3 separate regions of the Homo sapiens genome follow, and all the other regions are linked to region 1. Evidence: fine-mapped expression QTL. A gene starts in region 1. Each other region holds a variant in brackets. All regions are shown on one strand. Distances are between the middles of the regions. Region 1 holds the start of RNF24 (ring finger protein 24). Region 2 overlaps RNF24 (ring finger protein 24). Region 3 has its middle 63 kb from the start of RNF24.

The links. PIP is the estimated chance that this variant, and not a neighbour inherited with it, causes the effect.
Region 2: its variant is the best candidate, but not a certain one, in a credible set for the expression of RNF24 in whole blood (INTERVAL, PIP 0.81).
Region 3: its variant is the best candidate, but not a certain one, in a credible set for the expression of RNF24 in whole blood (INTERVAL, PIP 0.86).

What each region holds. Positions count from the first base shown.
Region 1 is chr20:4,012,563-4,018,286 of GRCh38, reverse strand. RNF24 (ring finger protein 24) reads left to right here and starts at 2,729. Exons shown (of 6, transcript NM_001134337.3): 1 at 2,729-2,850. RefSeq lists enhancers at 1,002-1,603, 1,807-2,739 and a silencer at 2,623-3,222.
Region 2 is chr20:3,934,067-3,939,790 of GRCh38, reverse strand. It overlaps RNF24 (ring finger protein 24), which reads left to right. Exons shown (of 6, transcript NM_001134337.3): 5 at 4,718-4,797; 6 at 5,590-5,724. Among named protein-coding and RNA genes, the nearest start is that of MIR103B2, 19 kb to the right of the region's middle. RefSeq lists an enhancer at 3,382-3,531. The variant G/A (reference allele first, on the strand shown) is at 3,223.
Region 3 is chr20:4,075,843-4,081,566 of GRCh38, reverse strand. No RefSeq gene overlaps it. Among named protein-coding and RNA genes, the nearest start is that of RNF24, 63 kb to the right of the region's middle. The variant C/T (reference allele first, on the strand shown) is at 3,057.

The DNA.
Region 1 (5,724 bases):
AACATCACCTCCACCAATAGCCACAGCAGACCCACTATGTGCCAGTCACATATTAGGTCCTGGGAGATACTGATCCTGCTGATGAAGGACTCACATGCTGGTGTGGTAAGAAAATATGCAAATGAGCAGGGACCTTGGAGGGTGCCTAGTGCTGAGAGGGAAGTGGGTACAGGGCACAGGTGGGGATTCTCAAGGAAAGTCTGTCAATAAGTGGGGGCAGAAAAAAATACTTTATCAAAAATGACTTTGTAAATACTTTACTTTTTTTTAGAGCAGTTTTAAGTTTGCCACAAAAGTGAGAGGAATGTGCAGAGTTCCCAACTAGCCCTTCCCCCCTACACATACATAGCCCCCCCATTATAAACATTCTCCCACGGGAGCATTTATTACTATTGTTGGACCTACATTGGCACATCATTATCACCCAAAATCCATGTTTACATTAGAGTTTGCTGCTGGTATTATTCATTCTATGGATTTAGACAAATGTGTCATGACAGGTATCCACCATTATGGTATCATACACAGAGTATTTTCACTGCCCTAAAAAGCATCTGTGGATTTTCAGAGAAAAGAGCAACTTTTGCATGCTAGGTAAGTATTGCTTTCCTAGTAGGGGAACAGCAGGAAACAGCAGTCACCTTGGTGACTACTGAGGTGAAACACCATGGTGCTGTTCTGTAAATGGCTGGAAAATAAGGCTCAAGGAGCCAGATGGGGCAGGGAAAAAGAAAAAGACAGAAACACAGGCAGATTTGAATACCATGAGAATCGATTTGCATGAGAATGGATTGAGACTTCTGCAACAGCCCAGGGGAGAGATGAGGGGGCTGATTTAGAACAGTGAGAGGTTTGAGCAAAGCAAAGTTGAAAAGACCCTCCAGGTAACTGCTATGATTGACAGCAAGGAGGGCAGTGTTCCCCCAGCACAGCCCTGGCACAGGCAGCTCTAGAGGAAGCCTGGGTCTCCCACTCCCTTCCTTTTGCCACAGTCTCCCTAGCACATGCCTCCACCCTTCTCTCACTTTGGGGGACTGTGACCATTGGGTGGCAGGTGACTTCTTGAGAAATTCACTAATGTTTCCCTCTTTACTTCCTCCCTGCCTTGGTGGTTAATGGTTTGCCAAAGCAGAAGGAACATGCCTCTAGGCGCTTGCCATGATGACTTTTGCTTCCCAAAGTTAAGCTACTGAGCTGTTTATGGTTTATGTGATGGGGCCTGAGAGATTAGGAGAAGGAAGGAGAACTTCTGGGGGACACATGGAGACTGAGGAAGAGGGGGCAATCATTTTTGCAAGCTCTGAGCTGCAGCGCACACACAGTCAGCTGTGGAGCTTCACAGCCATTCCCTCTGCAGGCTCCTAGCCTCTCCAGAAACTTCCGTACCCCAGGAGTGGCAGACACAAGGCGATGGGAACAAGAGAGTATCTGCAGAATACACTGCCTGCTAAAGACAAGAGAGGACTCCCCAGATCCTTGCCTTGGTATTGCAGGAAGAGCTCAGCCTCCCAAAATCGGAGGTCAATTTATTGCCTGCCCTGTAGAATGGGAGCCGGAGGTTGAGGAGTGGATGTAAATAAAGGAATGCACTGTTTCTTGCACACACCTCTCTCCACTATCTGGGCAGAGTCTAGGTCTCATCCATCACCAAGGTTCTAGCACTCAGCTGAGAGGCTGCAGCAGGAGGGGCAGATGGAGGAGGGTGCGGTGCATACCATCTCCCCATCAAACCAATGGGCACCACGTGACCATTCTTGTGTCTCTGGGGACTGTCAATCTGCATGCTAGGAAAGGGGTGGCATTCCAATCTTTCATTTTTTTGTGTGTGAGACGGAGTCTTGCTCTGTCACCCAGGCTGGAGTGCAATGGTGCGATCTTGGCTCACTGCAACCTCCGCTCCCCGGGTTCAAGAGATTTTCCTGCCTTAGCCTCCCGAGTAGCTGGGATTACAGGCATGAGCCACCACACCCAGCTAATTTTGTATTTTTAGTAGAGACAGAGTTTCTCTATGTTGGTCAGGCTGGTCTGGAACTCCTGACCTCAGGTGATCCACCCGCCTTGGCCTCCCAAAGTGTTGGGATTACAGGCGTGAGCCACTGCGCCCGGCCCCATGCTTTCACTTTTAAAAATGCTTGTAGGGCACGCAAAAATACTAAACGGTCGATGGAGAAGGTCTGTCTGGAGTAGTTGTTTTTTTTTTTTTTTTTTGAGACAGAGTCTCGCTCTGTCGCCCAGGCTGGTGTGCAGTGGCACGATCTCGGCTCACTGCAAGCTCCGCCTCCCAGGTTCAGGCGATTCTCCTGCCTCAGCCTCCCAAGTAGCTGGGACTACAGGCGCCCGCCACCACACCCGGCTAATTTAATTTTTTGTATTTTTAGTAGAGACGGGGTTTCATCGCGTTAGCCAAGATGGTCTCGATCTCCTGACCTCGTGATCTGCCCGCCTCAGCCTCCCAAAGTGCTGGGATTACAGGCGTGAGCCACCTCGCCCGGCCTGTCTGGCGTAGTTCTAACCAGGAACAGAGCCAGCGGCCAGGGCCGCACCAGGCCTGGCCAGGGAGCGCCGCGCCTGCGCACTGCAGACTCTGAAGCCGCCGAGCCCTCCGCCGAGGTGGGTGGGGAAACTGCCCGGGCATCCGGGTCCCTCACCCCGCCCCCGCTGCATGAATGAGAGGCGCGGCGCCCGCCCCTCCCCCGGCGGGCCCGCCCCTCGCGAGGGGCCGCCGGGCGCAGTCAGCCGCCGCCACCTCCGCCGCGCTCTGTCCGGACGGACGCTCGCCGCCCGCAGCCTGCCGCCCGCCGCAGGGCGCTGACGGTCCCGCACGTCTGCCGCTGCCACCGGCGCGCCCGAGTAAGTGAGCGAGCGAGGGCGGGAGCGCCGCGGCCGCCGCCCCCGGGCTGGGGTTTGGGGGACCGAGCCGCTCCGGGTTCGGGATGCTGAGGAGACCGCGGGCCCGCGCCAGCCTCCCACACACACACACTCTCCCGGCGCCTCGGCCGGCCGGGCGCGGTGTGCAGGGGTGAGGCGGTGTCTCCAGGCTGAGGAGGGACGCGGAGGAGGGTCCGGCGCGGCCCCGGGACTGGAGGGTGAGTCCCTCACAAAGGGCGGAGCGGGGCTGTCACCTGGAGATCACGGAGGGAAGGTGCGTGGGCCCCCGCACGTCCTGCTCGCCCAAGCCCTGGCATCGGGTCCCCGGGCGTGGGAGGCGGCTGGGATGAGCTGGGAGGCTAGGAGGAGGATGGCGAGGACGCTGCCCCCGCGTTGGCGGTGGGCGCGCGCCTTGGGGGGTGCGGCGTGGCAGTGTTTTCCTGGTCCCCGTCCACTCCTCCCCTTTCTTTGTGGCGCTTGTCTCGTGCCCCGTTGTCACAGTGTGCATGGCAGTGGTCGGGGTGGAGACCTCTTCCCTCGGCTTACTCATTAATGAAAGTCACCATCTGTGGGCAGGGGGCGTGTGTGGTTCCACAGGCCGGAGAATTAAGGACCCTCCTTTGTTTCTGGAGACCTAATGATGTGTGTGTGTGTGTGTGTGTGTGTGTGTGTGTGTGTGCGCATTCAAGTGAAAGGGACATCTATGAAATGAGAGAATCAGAGATTGTCAAAAAGGGTATGAGGAAAAGGGGAGGGGATATAACTTCATCACACCTTTACCCAATTCTTTACCTGATGTTATTTCAAACAGTTTTTTCTCACTGTAAAACCAGTGGGTTTTATTCATTGGAAATGTGCATCTAAATTCTCATATATCTGTGTTTCTAGAATACTTTGCCTTTTTGGGCTTAGTTAATGGTAAGATTCTCATGTCTGTCTACATAGGAATACTCCACCGTACAGGACACTGCTTTCTGGGTTTAGTTCATTGATAATTTGTCCGAATGCTCATAAACATGTCTATAGGAATACTCCAATATATCTAGGACACAGTTTTCTCCGCTCCTGAATACAGGCAGATTTTGTTTCTTTCTGCCTCCCTGTGTTAATGAGAAGGTAGTCCAGCAGGTTCTCTCTACCTCCTTGCTTTTTTTTCCCCTTAATGCTTTGGCAGAGGGTTTTATTGCATATTACCCTGGCATGCGCCCTTGCTTTGATGTGAATTTTCCTGTGTTCTGTTGTCTGGTTGTACAGCCCAGCTCAATGGCTCCTCTTACAGGACTACTGGAAAACAGAACACCTTTTTTCATTGTCCTCATCTCCAGAGAGAGAAGGAAGCGCTGTAGGTTCCCACAAACGTTGACTCTGTCAGACTGCCTGCCTGACTTTGTTGTGTTGGTAAAGTTATGAAGAGTTGCAGTTGTTGTAGACCAATTAAAAAGAGGCTATTGGGATAACACCAGCTCTTCCTTGCTATTTTGGTTTTAAAACAAATGATATGAATTTTGCAAGATAGTTGTTAACTCTGGTTGCATGATGATTTTCAGTTTCTTTTTACCCATATACTTTTACAGGGTGTTGGGAAATTAGCCACTCATTTACAAGAAACACACCTCCAAGGTATTTTTATTATGGGTCGGGTGCGGTGGCTCACACCTGTAATCCCAGCACTTTGGGGGGCCGAGGTGGGTGGATCACCAGAGGTCAGAAGTTTGAGACCAGCCTGGCCAACATGGTGAAACCCTGTCTCTACTAAAAAAATACAAAAAATTAGCCGGGCATGGTGGCGAGCGCCTGTAATTCCAGCTACTCGGGAGGCTGAGGCAGGAGAATCGCTTGAACTCCCGGAGGCGGAGGTTGCAGTGAGCCTAGATCGCGCCATTGCATTCCAGCCTGGGCAACAAGAGCGAAACTCCGTCTGAAAAAAAAGCTATTTTTATTATGATCTTTGGATTCAAAATAGCGGTTTTAAAAAATTAAGAGGCGCTTATATTGGATGATATGAATAATTGTATGGGTTCTGTTTTCTTTAAGATTCTCTGTAATATTTTTAAAAATCACATGTATTTTAATTCCTAGTAGTTTTCAGTGGAAAATGAAATGTAAACTAAGCAGTCTTCCACAGCATCTGTTTATGTATATTCCCTCTGTTTAAAACATTTGCTTTTAATTTGAAGGGGAAATTTTCCATGGTCAGTTCAGGATACATTATTCTTAGTAAAATTCTTACCACGTTCAAATTCTTTTTTGTAAGAGTAAAAAAAAATTAATGAAAGTTGATTTTTCAATTGGGGATGTTTTGGTTTTAATGCATGATTTAAATAAAATCTTAATATCAATTAATTTAATTCAGATAAGTTAATTTAAAACAAGGCTTTTATGAAGGAAAAATGAAGCAGAAAAAAAAAAACAAGAGCTTTACTAACTAAAGTCACTAATGTTGAAGTAACCCAGTACATTTATAAACTGCCTGTCTTGACTGCATAAGACATTTTTTAGGAGTCTCCTTAAAACAAACCGTAAGGGGAAGTCTTAGATAAACAGAGTAGCATAACCGGAATTATCACTGAAATAAGCTTGCACAGTATCGCAATTTCATGGAAGTTTAATTTTGCAAGAGTGACTTAGCTATTTTTAATATCAACAAAGGAACCTAAACACAGCCTGGCCTTGTTATTCAGCATTCTGTTAATCAAAGTATTTGCCAACCCATAGTTTAGCATTCTGTAGTATGATGATTGAAGAAAAAATCTAAACTAACTTTTAGATCCTTAAAATAGATAAAATAATGTTAAGTGCTGTTTTAATAGTAAATATTTATTCATTAGAATAGTAATATTATGTTAGTGATGGTAA
Region 2 (5,724 bases), 78 kb after region 1:
GTAATATCCAAAGTATTTACCAAATCATCTTTTTCAAAATCCTATCTGCCCTTTTATGCACAAATTGACAAGCAGATGAATTCTGAAATTCCCATGGAAATGTAAAGGATCCAGAATAGCCAAAAGAATCTTGAAAAAGAAGAACAGAGTTAGAGAACTCACACTTTCCAATTTCAAAACTTACTATACAAAGCTACAGTTTTTAATACATGTGACACAGGTATATTGATAGCTATATAGATCAGTGGAATAGAACTGCAAGTCCAAAAATAAATTCAAACATTTATGGTCAGTTGATTTTCAACAAGGGTGCCAAGACAATTCAGTGGGAAAAGAATAGTCTTTTCAATCAGTGGTGCTGGGACAACTGGATATCTACATGCAAAAGAATAAATTTAGACATCTACCTCATACTATATACAAAGATTACTCAAAAGTTAATCAAAGACCTAAATGTATCAGCTAATATTATAAAACTCTCAGACATAAACATAGGTGAGCCCAGTGCCATGACACATGCCTGTAATCCCAGCTCCTCAGGGGGCTGAGGGGGAAGCTCCCTTGAGTCCAGGAATTTGAGACCAGCCTGGGCAACATAGCAAGACTCTGTCTCTAAAAAACAAAAAGGAGAAATAAACATAGATGTATAAATCTTCATAGCTGTGGATTGGGTAATGGATTCTTAGATATGACATCTAAAGCACAAGCAAGCTAAGAAAAAATAGTTAAACTTCATCAGGCCAGCCATGGAGGCTCACTCCTGTAATCCCAACACGTTGGGAGGCCAAGACGAGAAGATTGCTTGAGCTCAGGAGTTTGAGACCAGCCTGGGCAACATAGCTAGGAGACCTTATCTCTACTTACAAAAAAAAAAATTAGTTGGGTGTCGTGATGTGTGCCTGTAAGTCCCAGCTATTTGGGAGGTTGAGGCTTGAGGAGCTGGAGGATTGCTTGAGATCAGGAGATTGAGGCTGCAGTGAGCTATGATGGCACCAGTGCACTCCAGCCTGGGTGACAGAGCAAGACTGTCTCAAAAAAAAAATTAAAAACTTTTGTGCTTCAAAGGACATTATCTTGAAAGTGAAGGCAACCCACAGGGACAAAGTATTCACAAGTTTTATATCTGATAAGGGTCTTGTATTTAAGATGTATAAAGAACTCTTAGAACTCAGTAATAAGAAGCCTGCAAAATAAAAAGGTCTGCAAATATTTTCTCCCAGTCTTTTCATCCTAACAGGGTCTTTTGTAGAACAAAAGTTTTTTAATTTGATCAAGTCCAGTTTATCCATTTTTTCCTTTGGTTTCTTTGCTTAGGTTGTGCTTTGGTTGTGCTTAGGTTGTGTTTCTGCTTAGGCTGCGTGTGTCTTTTGTGTCTATGAATGTGTAGTGCTCTAACATCATTTGTTGAAAAGGCTTTCCTTCTGCCATTGAAATGCTTTTTGCACCTTTGTCAAAATTAGTTGGCTATCTGATAAGGGAGTTCAGTCTAAAATATATAAAGAACTCTTACCACTTAATAATAAAAAGAAACCAACTAATAAATTGACAAAGGACTTAATAGGCATTTCTCCAAAGAAGATATGTGGTGGTCAATAAGCACGGCATCATTAGTCATTAAGGAAATGACCCATTTACACCCATTATGATAACTATAGTAAAAAAGACAAGAATAAGTATTGGTGATGATATGGAGAAATTACAACCCATACGTACTGCTGGTAGGAACGTAAAATGGTGCAGCCGCTTTGGAAATCGGTTTGGTAGCTCCTCAAAAAGGTAAACATAGAGTTACCATATGACCCAGCAATTCCACTCCTTGATACATACCCAAAAGAACGTAAACAAGGACTCAGCCAGATACTTGTACACCAGTGTTTATAGCAGTATTGTCCACAATAGCCAAAAGGTAGAAACAACCCAGGTGGCCATCAATAGATAAATGGGTAAACAAAATGCGGTACATACATACAGTGGAATATTATTCAGCCATGAAAATGAGTGAAGTACTGATATATGTTACAATATAGATGAACCTTGAAGACATTATGCTAAGGGAAAGAAGCCAAACATGAAATATTACATATTGTATGGTTCCATTTATATGAAATGTCCCGAGTAGACAAATCCATCAATAAAGAAAGTAGATTAGTGGTTGGTTGCCAGAGATTGGGGAAAGGGGAGAATGGGGAATGACTGCCTATGAATATGGGCTTGTTTTGGGGGGTGGGTGGGTGGCATTTGATGCAAATGTTCTGGAATTAGATTGTAAAGATGGCTGCACATATATACCTAAAAACTGCTGAATTGTACTGTTACTTAAAGGAGTGAATATTATAGTAGATTAATTGTATCTCAGTTTTTTAATGGTGATGGGAAGTCACACTGGAGAAACAATCTCATTGAATACTGGAAACAAAAGTTTATTTGCAAAATATGAACTGTAAAGGAAAGTTGTAAAATGAGTTTGGCTCTTAGGGAGCTTCTAGGAAGTCATCTGAGGCTTTTCTCTTTTTGTGATTGCCATTGACTTTGGTCACCTTTAGCATTTAACGTGTCAGAGTTTGTCTTGTTTTTTCTCAGGTGGCTATAGTTTTAGGATCTGTTTATTCAGAACATAATAGCACATTATACCATTAATAGTAACTCCATTTTGGGGCTGGGCGCAGTGGCTCACACCTGTAATCCCAACACTTTGGGAGGCTGAGTCAGGCGGATCACAAGGTCAAGAGATCGAGAGCATCTTGGCCAACATGGTGAAACCCTGTCTCTACTAAAAATATAAAAAATTAGCCGGGTATGGTTGGCATGCACCTGTAGTCCCAGCTATTCGGGAGTCTGAGGCAGGAGACTCACTTGAACCCAGGAGGCGGAGGTTGCGGTGAGCTGAGATCGCACCACTGCACTCCAGCCTGGCGACAGAGCAAGACTCCATCTCAAAAAGAAAAAAAGAAACTCCTGTTTGGAAAGGCTACTAATCTAATTTTGGATCCTGGAAAAATAAGTGAATAAAAATAAGCAACTCATCCAACCTGTGCTTCAACAGGATCAGTGCTAAATCTCCAGAGGACAGTCCTGACCCTGTGTCGGAAGGCGGGGCTGAGAGGAAAACTGGCTGTTGAAGGCCAGAGGGCCAATCACACAGTCTAGGAGATGGGAGCATCATTCCCTCTTTACAGGTGGGAAGCTGAGGCCCAAAAAGATACCACTAGGCTGAAACTGCTG[G/A]ATTTTTACCTTTACCCACAGCTTGTTCTCAGCCTCCCTTCAGAGGACAAAAATGGGCTTGCAAACAGTACTTCCATTATAAAATGTAGACATCAATAAAAACAGCTGGCATTGGTAGACTGCCTTACTGTGTCCTTAACCCTACCCCCCAAGCTGAGCTGATGACAGCCGTGTGTAGGGTGGGACAGGCCATGTCCTTATTGTACAGATGAAGGAACAGAGCTCTGTGAGGAATCCTGAGGGCAGAGGCCACACAGCTAGTGTGTCTGAGCCAAGGCCAGCCACCTGTCCTGCTCTCCTCCCTGCTCCCCTGCCATCTTGGTAGGGATGCTGAGTCCAACAGAGCACAGTTATCCATTCTCCTCCTGTGAAGGTCCTGTCTGTCATACACACAAGGCCCTGAAAGCTACCTCAGCAAGGATGTTTAAAAACCAACATGGCACGGTTCACTGGGCACCAAGAGCCACATGTCCTGCCTGGATCATGTTACATAATCTAAGAAGACTGGGTTACGTGTTATAGGTTAAGAAACTAGTAACAGCAAAGCCATCAACAGTCCAGGCTAGAAATGGTGATGGCCTGAACCAGGATCCTTGGGAATGGACAGGGAAGCAAGTAGGGAGAAAGGAGTTCAACCACTGGGCAGGAGAAAGCAATGGCACAACAGCACATCAGTGCAACAGACCTGGGTCCCAGCCAGGCCTGGCCACTCTCCAATTAAATGGCCTCAAGCAACATTATTTTCCTGAGCTTCTGTTTCCTCATCGGTAAAATGGGTCAGTGTGGTGACACATGGTATCCACGGGCCCTGGTGAATGCCCAGGAAAGTGTTGGAACCCAGCCCCTGGGTACGATGGCAAAGGCCTCTCTCCAAGCCATGGAGACTAGTCATTGGCTGAGAGCAGTCCTGGTCCCATCTGCACATGTTCATGAGTTAACTGAGTCTTCAGTAACTTTTTATATGACAGAGACACTGACAGAAGGACAGTGCCAAAGTGGGAGGCCCCAGGAACTATAAATAGCATGTTACTGCAAGCTGTGCATAAAAACAGGAGAAAAGATTGCCAGGGCTTGAGCGGTCCCTTTCAGTGAGTGCTTGGGAGCCAGGCTGTGCTGCTGACAAGGTGGAGAACCCAGAGAGCCTCAGCTCTTTCGGCACACCAGGAAAGGGACAGCAGGCTAAGCTGGCAGATGTGAGAGTAACCCTCCCTCGGTCCCACACTTCTGATGCACTGAAGTAAAGGCAGCTGCCTCTTGCTTTCTGTCTTCTCCCATCTGCCCACCTCCTTGAAGATATGGGACAGGAAGAGCAGGAGACATTCATCTATTTTGGCCTGTTTCTTTTCAGTCATTTATTCATTCATTTCTTTTTTTTTTAAGATAAGAGTCTCATGAGTCCCTTCAAACGGTTGAGCCTTTAGGAGCCTGCACTCTACTTTGTACCTGGGAGGGTACTTAACAGACACTTGGCTTCATTTGTGCATTTGTCTTTCAGCTCTGTGCAGTGTGCCTAGAAGACTTCAAGCCTCGAGATGAGTTGGGGATTTGCCCATGTAAGCACGCCTTCCACAGAAAGTAAGTATTGGTATGGAATTACTTAATGGGACCCGAGTTTGAGGCACATCAACCAACTTCTTTTGGGTTTTAGGGCAGTGCCAGACAAGCTTGATGGCTTCATGATTGGTCTGTAATGCAGAAAGCTGACAGCACCCTACAGGTGGGATGTGTGTGTGTGTGCGTGACATTAGGAGACAGCAGAGTGGTGGAACGTGACCACCACGTCAGGACTATGGGCAGAGAGCCAAAATGAGCCTACACTTGGAGCCCAAGCAATAAACAGCTATTTAGCTGGAACTTTCCACTGAGAGCCTCATCTCCTAAAAACTTATTTAAATCAAAACCATAGTTATTTAAAATCAAAATAAAGTCTGGATATAAATGGTAGTGTGGGGCACTCTCCTCCCACTTCCTGCAGACATATTAATATTCTTCCTCTTATAATTTTTTGTTTTGTATTTCTGTTAGAAAAATTTATTTTCCTACTTCTCACATCCCTGCTCAGTGTATTTTGTTCTTGTAAGAAGTCATGGGTAACTGAGAGTATCACATACTATCTGTGGCTTCACACGTGGAAGATGGGAGGCTCTGGAAGGAAGAGGGGATTGCTGACCCCTTGGCCTCTCCCCACTCCTTCTCTCTGTCTCTTCCCTCTCTCCAGGGGGTGACATCCGTTCACCACCTAGGAGGGGAGCTCCTTGGACCATACAGCAGACGTTGTCTGGGTGACAGATATGGAGATGTTCAGCAGAACAGCCGTGCCATGAGCATAGGACTGACATCTTCCCCCTGTGGTGTCTCCTTCTGCAGGTGCCTTATTAAGTGGCTGGAGGTTCGTAAAGTGTGTCCCCTGTGCAACATGCCAGTTCTACAGCTGGCCCAGTTGCACAGTAAGCAGGACCGTGGACCCCCTCAGGGGCCCCTTCCTGGGGCAGAGAACATTGT
Region 3 (5,724 bases), 63 kb before region 1:
AAAAGGAACTCTCAACCCAGAATTCTATATCCAGTAAAAAGATTATTCAAGAATGACGGGAATCCAGATGTTCTCAGATTAGGAGAACCAGGAGAATTTGTTGTCAGCACCTGCCATTTAGGAATGACTAAAAAGAAGTTGTCTAAACAGAAAGGAAATGATGAACAAAGGAATTTTTCTTTTTTCTTTTTTTTTTTTTTTGTTGAGACAGAGTCTCGTTCTGTCACCAGGCTGGAGTGCAGTGGTGCAATCTCAGCTCACTGCAACATCTGCCTCCCAGATTCAAGCGATTCTTCTGTCTCAGCCTCCTGAGTAGCTGGGACTACAGGCACACGCCACCATGCCCGGCTAAATTTTTTGTATTTTTAGTAGAGACGGGATTTCACCATATTGGCAAGGCTGGGCTCGAACTCCTGACCTCATGATCCACCAGCCTCGACCTCCCAAAGTGCTGGGATTACAGGCGTGAGCCACCACACCTGGCTGAATGAAGGATCTTAGAACAACAGTAAAGAAGAAAGAACAATGAAAAGCACAAAAATATGGATAAATACAACAGACTTTCCTTATCCTCTTGAGTTTTCTTTCTTTCTTTCTTCCTTTCTTTTTTTTTTTTTTTTTTAGATGGAGTCTTGCCCTGTCGCCAGGCTGAAGTGCAATGGCGTGATCTTGGCCTCCCGAGTTCGAGCGATTCTCCTGCCTCAGCCTCCCAAGTAGCTGGGACTACAGGCACGCGCCACCAGGCCCAGCTAATTTTTGTATTTTTAGTAGAGTCGGGATTTCACCACGTTGGCCAGCATGGTCTCGATCTCTTGACCTCATGATCCACCTGCCTCGGCCTCCCAAAGTGCTGGGATTACAGGCATGAGCCACCGTGCCAGGCCTCTTCTTTAGATACAGTGATGGGGTCTCACTATATTACCCAGACTGGTCTTGAACTCTTAGGCTCAAGCAGTCCTCCTGCCTCGGCCTCTCAGTGTTGGGATTACAGGCATGAGCCTCTTGATTTTTCTAAATTATGTTTGACAGTTAAAGTAAAAAATGTACTTTGGGATGCCAACGCGGGCGGATCACCTGAGGTCAGGACTTCAAGACCATCCTGGCCAACATGGTGAAACCCCGTCTCTACTAAAATTACAAAAATGAGTTGGGCGTAGTGGTGCACACCTGTAATCCCAGCTACCTGGGAGGCTGAGGCAGGAGAATCACTTGAACCCGGGAGGCAGAGGTTGCAGTGAGCCGAGATCGCACCATTGCTCTCCAGCCTGGGCGACAAGAGTGAGACTTCGTCTCAAAAAAAAAAAAAAAAAGGCCGGGCGTGGTAACTAATGCCTATAATCCCAGCATTTTGGGAGGCCAAGGCAGGCGGACCACGAGGTCGGGAGTTTGAGACCAGCCTGGCCAACATGGTGAAACCCCATTTCTACTAAAGATATAAAAAATTAGCTGGGCATGGTGGCATGCACCTGTAATCCCAGCTACTCGGGAGGCTGAGGGAGAAGAATCACTTGAACCCGGGAGGCGAAGGTTGCAGTGAGCCGAGATCGTGAGATCGCACCATTGCACCCCAGACTGGGTGACAGGGCAAGACTCTATCTCAAAAAATAAATAAATAAATAAAGCAAAAATTATAACACCGTATGATGTGGTTCTCAACAAATATAAATATTTAAGACAATTATATTAGAAATGGAAGAAAGTAATGCGATGTTAGGAAGGTAGGTTTTACACTTCACTTGAACTAGTTAAATGTTAATACTCATAGATAGTGTGACTTGAAAGATTTGAAATCACATAGAGTGTGTTCTCTGACCACAATCGAATACATACAGAGACAGAGATACGAATATAGATAGATATTTGAATAGACAGATATAAATATAGATAGCTATATATCTAGAACAACTACTGAAAAGGGTATACAAGAGATATACACTCACAAACACTATCGATAAATCAAAATGAATGAAAACATTCAAGTGTCCCGTAGAAAGGCAGGAAAGAAAAAACAAAGAGAACAATAGAAAACTTAAAAATTTAATGGCTGACTTAATTCCTAACATATAAATAATTCCATTAAATATAAATTTACCCAAGCATACCAATTAAAATACAGAGATTGACAGAGAGGATTTAAAACATGACCCAACTATATGCTATCTACACAGAACTCATTTCAAATGTAACAATATAGGTAAATTGAAAGTTAAAAGATGGCTAGGCGTGGTGGCTCACACCTGTAATCCTGGCCATTTGGGAGGCTGAGGCAGGAGGATCACTTGAGCCCAGGAGTTTGATGCTGCAGGGAGCTATGATTGTGCCACTGCACTCTAGCTTGGGTGACAGAGTGAGACCCTGTCTCTAAATAAAAATTTAAATTTAAATTTAAAAATTAAAAAGATCAGTTTTACACCACAAACATAAATCAAAAGAAAGCGAGAGTGGCTATATTGATGTCAGACAACGCGACTTCAGAGCAAAGAAAATTACCAAGGCCATTCTACAATGATAAAATGGTCAATCCACCAAGAAGGCATAGCAATCCTAAATGTGTATGCACAAAACAACAGAGCTGCAACATATGTGAAGCCAAACTTGATCAAATTGAAAAGAGAAATAGACAAATGCATTATTGTAGTTGGAGAATTCATTTTTCTCTCAGCAATTGATAGAGCAACCAGACAGAAAATCAGCAAAGATATAGAAGACACCAACAATACCATCAAACAACAGAATCCAGCTGACATTTATAGAACACTCCACCCAAAAATAGCAGAAACCACATTCTTTTCAAGCACCCAGGGAACATATATCAAGATAGGCCATATCCTGGACCATAAAATACACCTCAACAAATGTAGAAGAATTGAATCATACTGTGTTTTCTGACCACATGGAACAAATAACAGAAAGGTAACAGGAAAATCTCCAAACACTTGGAAATAAAACAATACACTTTAATCCTTGGGTTAAAGAGGAGGCTCATGGGAAATTAAAAAAAATACAGTGAACTAAATGAAAATGAAAATACGACGTACCAAAATGTGTGGGACACA[C/T]TTAAAACAGTGTTAAGGGGGAATTTGTGAAACTAAATGTTTACATTAGAAATGAGGAAAAAACTCAAATCAATAATCTAATCTCCCATCTCAAGAAACTAGAAAAAGAAGAGCAAAATAAACCCAAATTCAGCAGAAATCAGGAAATAATAAGAGCAGAAATCAATGAAAGTAAAAACAGAAAACAATATAGAAAAGCAATAAAACAAAAAGTTGATTCCTTGACAAGATCAATAAGATGGACAAACCTCTAGCAAGACTGACAAAAGAAAAAAGAAAGAAAACACAAGTTACGAATTTCAGGAAAGAAACAGGTATCTGTTGTTATCACTGAACACCCCAAAGACATTAAAAAAAGAATAAGATAATACTACCAACGCTACACACATACATTTAACAACTTCAATGAAATTGACAAATTCCTCAACAACCGCAAACAAGCACAATTTGCCCAATATGAAGTGAATAATTTGAGTAGCCCTTTCACTCTAAGGAAAATTGAATTCAAATTTTTAAGACTATTAAAATGAAAGAAGAAATCTTCAACCCTGATGATTTCACTGGCGAATTATACCAAATGTTTAAAGAAAAATTAACACCAGTTCTACACAATCTCTTCCAGAAAATAGAAGAAGAAAGCATGTTTCCTAATTCATTTTATGTAGCCAATATTACTCTAATACCAAAACAAGGCAAAGTACAAAAAAGAAAACCATAGTCCAATATCCCCAATGAATACAGATGAAAATGTCCTTAACAAAATATTAACTAATAGAATTCAGCAATATACTAAAATACACACATATACACATTATGTATAATAAACATATTAAAGAGAGAGATTATAACCAGATGAGGCTTATTCCAGGTATTAATGGCTTGTTCAGTATTAAAAATAAATCACTGTAACTCATCATATCAATAGGCTAAAGAAGAATTATATCTGCTGGGCGCGGTGGCTCACGCCTGTAATCCCAGCACTTTAGGAGGCCGAGGCAGGCAGATCATGAGGTCAGGAGATCGAAACCATCCTGGCTAACACTGTGAAACCCGGTCTCTACTAAAAAAAAAAATACAAAACATTAGCCAGGCGTGGTGGTGGGCACCTGTAGTCCCAGCTACTCGGGAGGCTGAGGCAGGAGAATGGCATGAACCCGGGAGGTGGAGCTTGCAGTGAGCCAAGATCGCACCACTGCACTCCAGCCTGGGTGACAGAGCGAGACTCCGTCTCACCAAAAAAAAAAAAAAAAAAAAAAAAAAAAGCATAAAACTATAAAACTTTTAGAAGAAAACATAAAAATCATCAGGACCTAGGGCTTAGTGAAGAGTTCTTATACATGACACCTGTTCCATGAAAGGGCCGCACATGCAAAGCAGTCCTCAAATGCCAAAGAAGCCAAGAAACCAAAGAAGGAGGCAGGCAAATCCCATTTGTCAGTATAAGGTGGCTTATTAGGGGCAACTTATAGACAGAAGTCTGGTCTTGGGCCACCACAAGACAGGTAGATCTCTACACCACACCTCCCCAGGCAGGGGGCTTACATCTTGGGGGAAAAGTATACGTGCTCTGAAAGGAATGTGTAGTTGGCTATGAGTGTCACAGCCTATGACTTCTGCAACAGCATCAAGAGCTGTTTTGGAGGAAACTTACAATCATTAGGTGTTTCCACATAAAGAGTAATACATCAGCTAGACATGTTGGAGGCATTCCCGGACTTGTGGTTAGTCACTGGATTAGCATTTAAAATAAAGCCTCTCTTGTCCCCACAACATCGAAATCAATAAATTGGAATTCATCAAAATGAATAAACTTTTCTCTACAAAAGGCCCTCTTAAGAAGATAAAAACACAAGCTACACCTAGGAAAAAATATTTGCAGACCACGTATCTGACAAAGGATGTGTATCAGAATATAGAAAGACTCTCGAAACTCAACAGTTAAAAAAAAACCAAATAATCTAATTAGAAAATAGGCAAGAGATATGAGGAGATATTTTATCGAAGAGGCTATACAATGGCAAATAAGCACATGAAAAGATCCTCGACATCATTAGTCTTTAGGAAAATGCAAATTAAGACCATGATGATATATCCCTACACACCTATTAGAAGAGCTAAAAATTAAAAATAGTGAACATATCGAATACTTGAGAGGATGTGAAGGAACTGAATCTCTCACCCATTACTAGTGAAAATATAAAATGATAGAGCCACTCCGGATAATGGTTGAGCAGTTTCTTTAAAAACTAAACATAAAGTGACCATACAGCCCAGCAATGCACTTGTGGGCATTTATCCCAGAGAAATAGGGCTATGGCCACACAAGTACCAGAATGGAAACAACCAAAATGTTTTACAATAAGTGAATGATTGAACAAACTGTGGTATATTTACACCAGAGATTACCACCCAAAATTAAACTATTGACACATGCATCAACCTGGATGGATCTCAAGGGCACGAATCTGAGTGGGGAAAAGAAAATCACGAAAGGTCACATACTGTATGCTTCGATTTATATAACATTCTCAAAATGACAAAACTATGGAGAACGCATTAGTGGTTACCAGTGCTTAGGGATGGTGGGGAGAGAGGAGGGTGAGACTGAAGGAGTTGCAAGAGAGAGATCTTGATGGTGATGGAACAGTTCTGGATCTTGGCAGGGTGG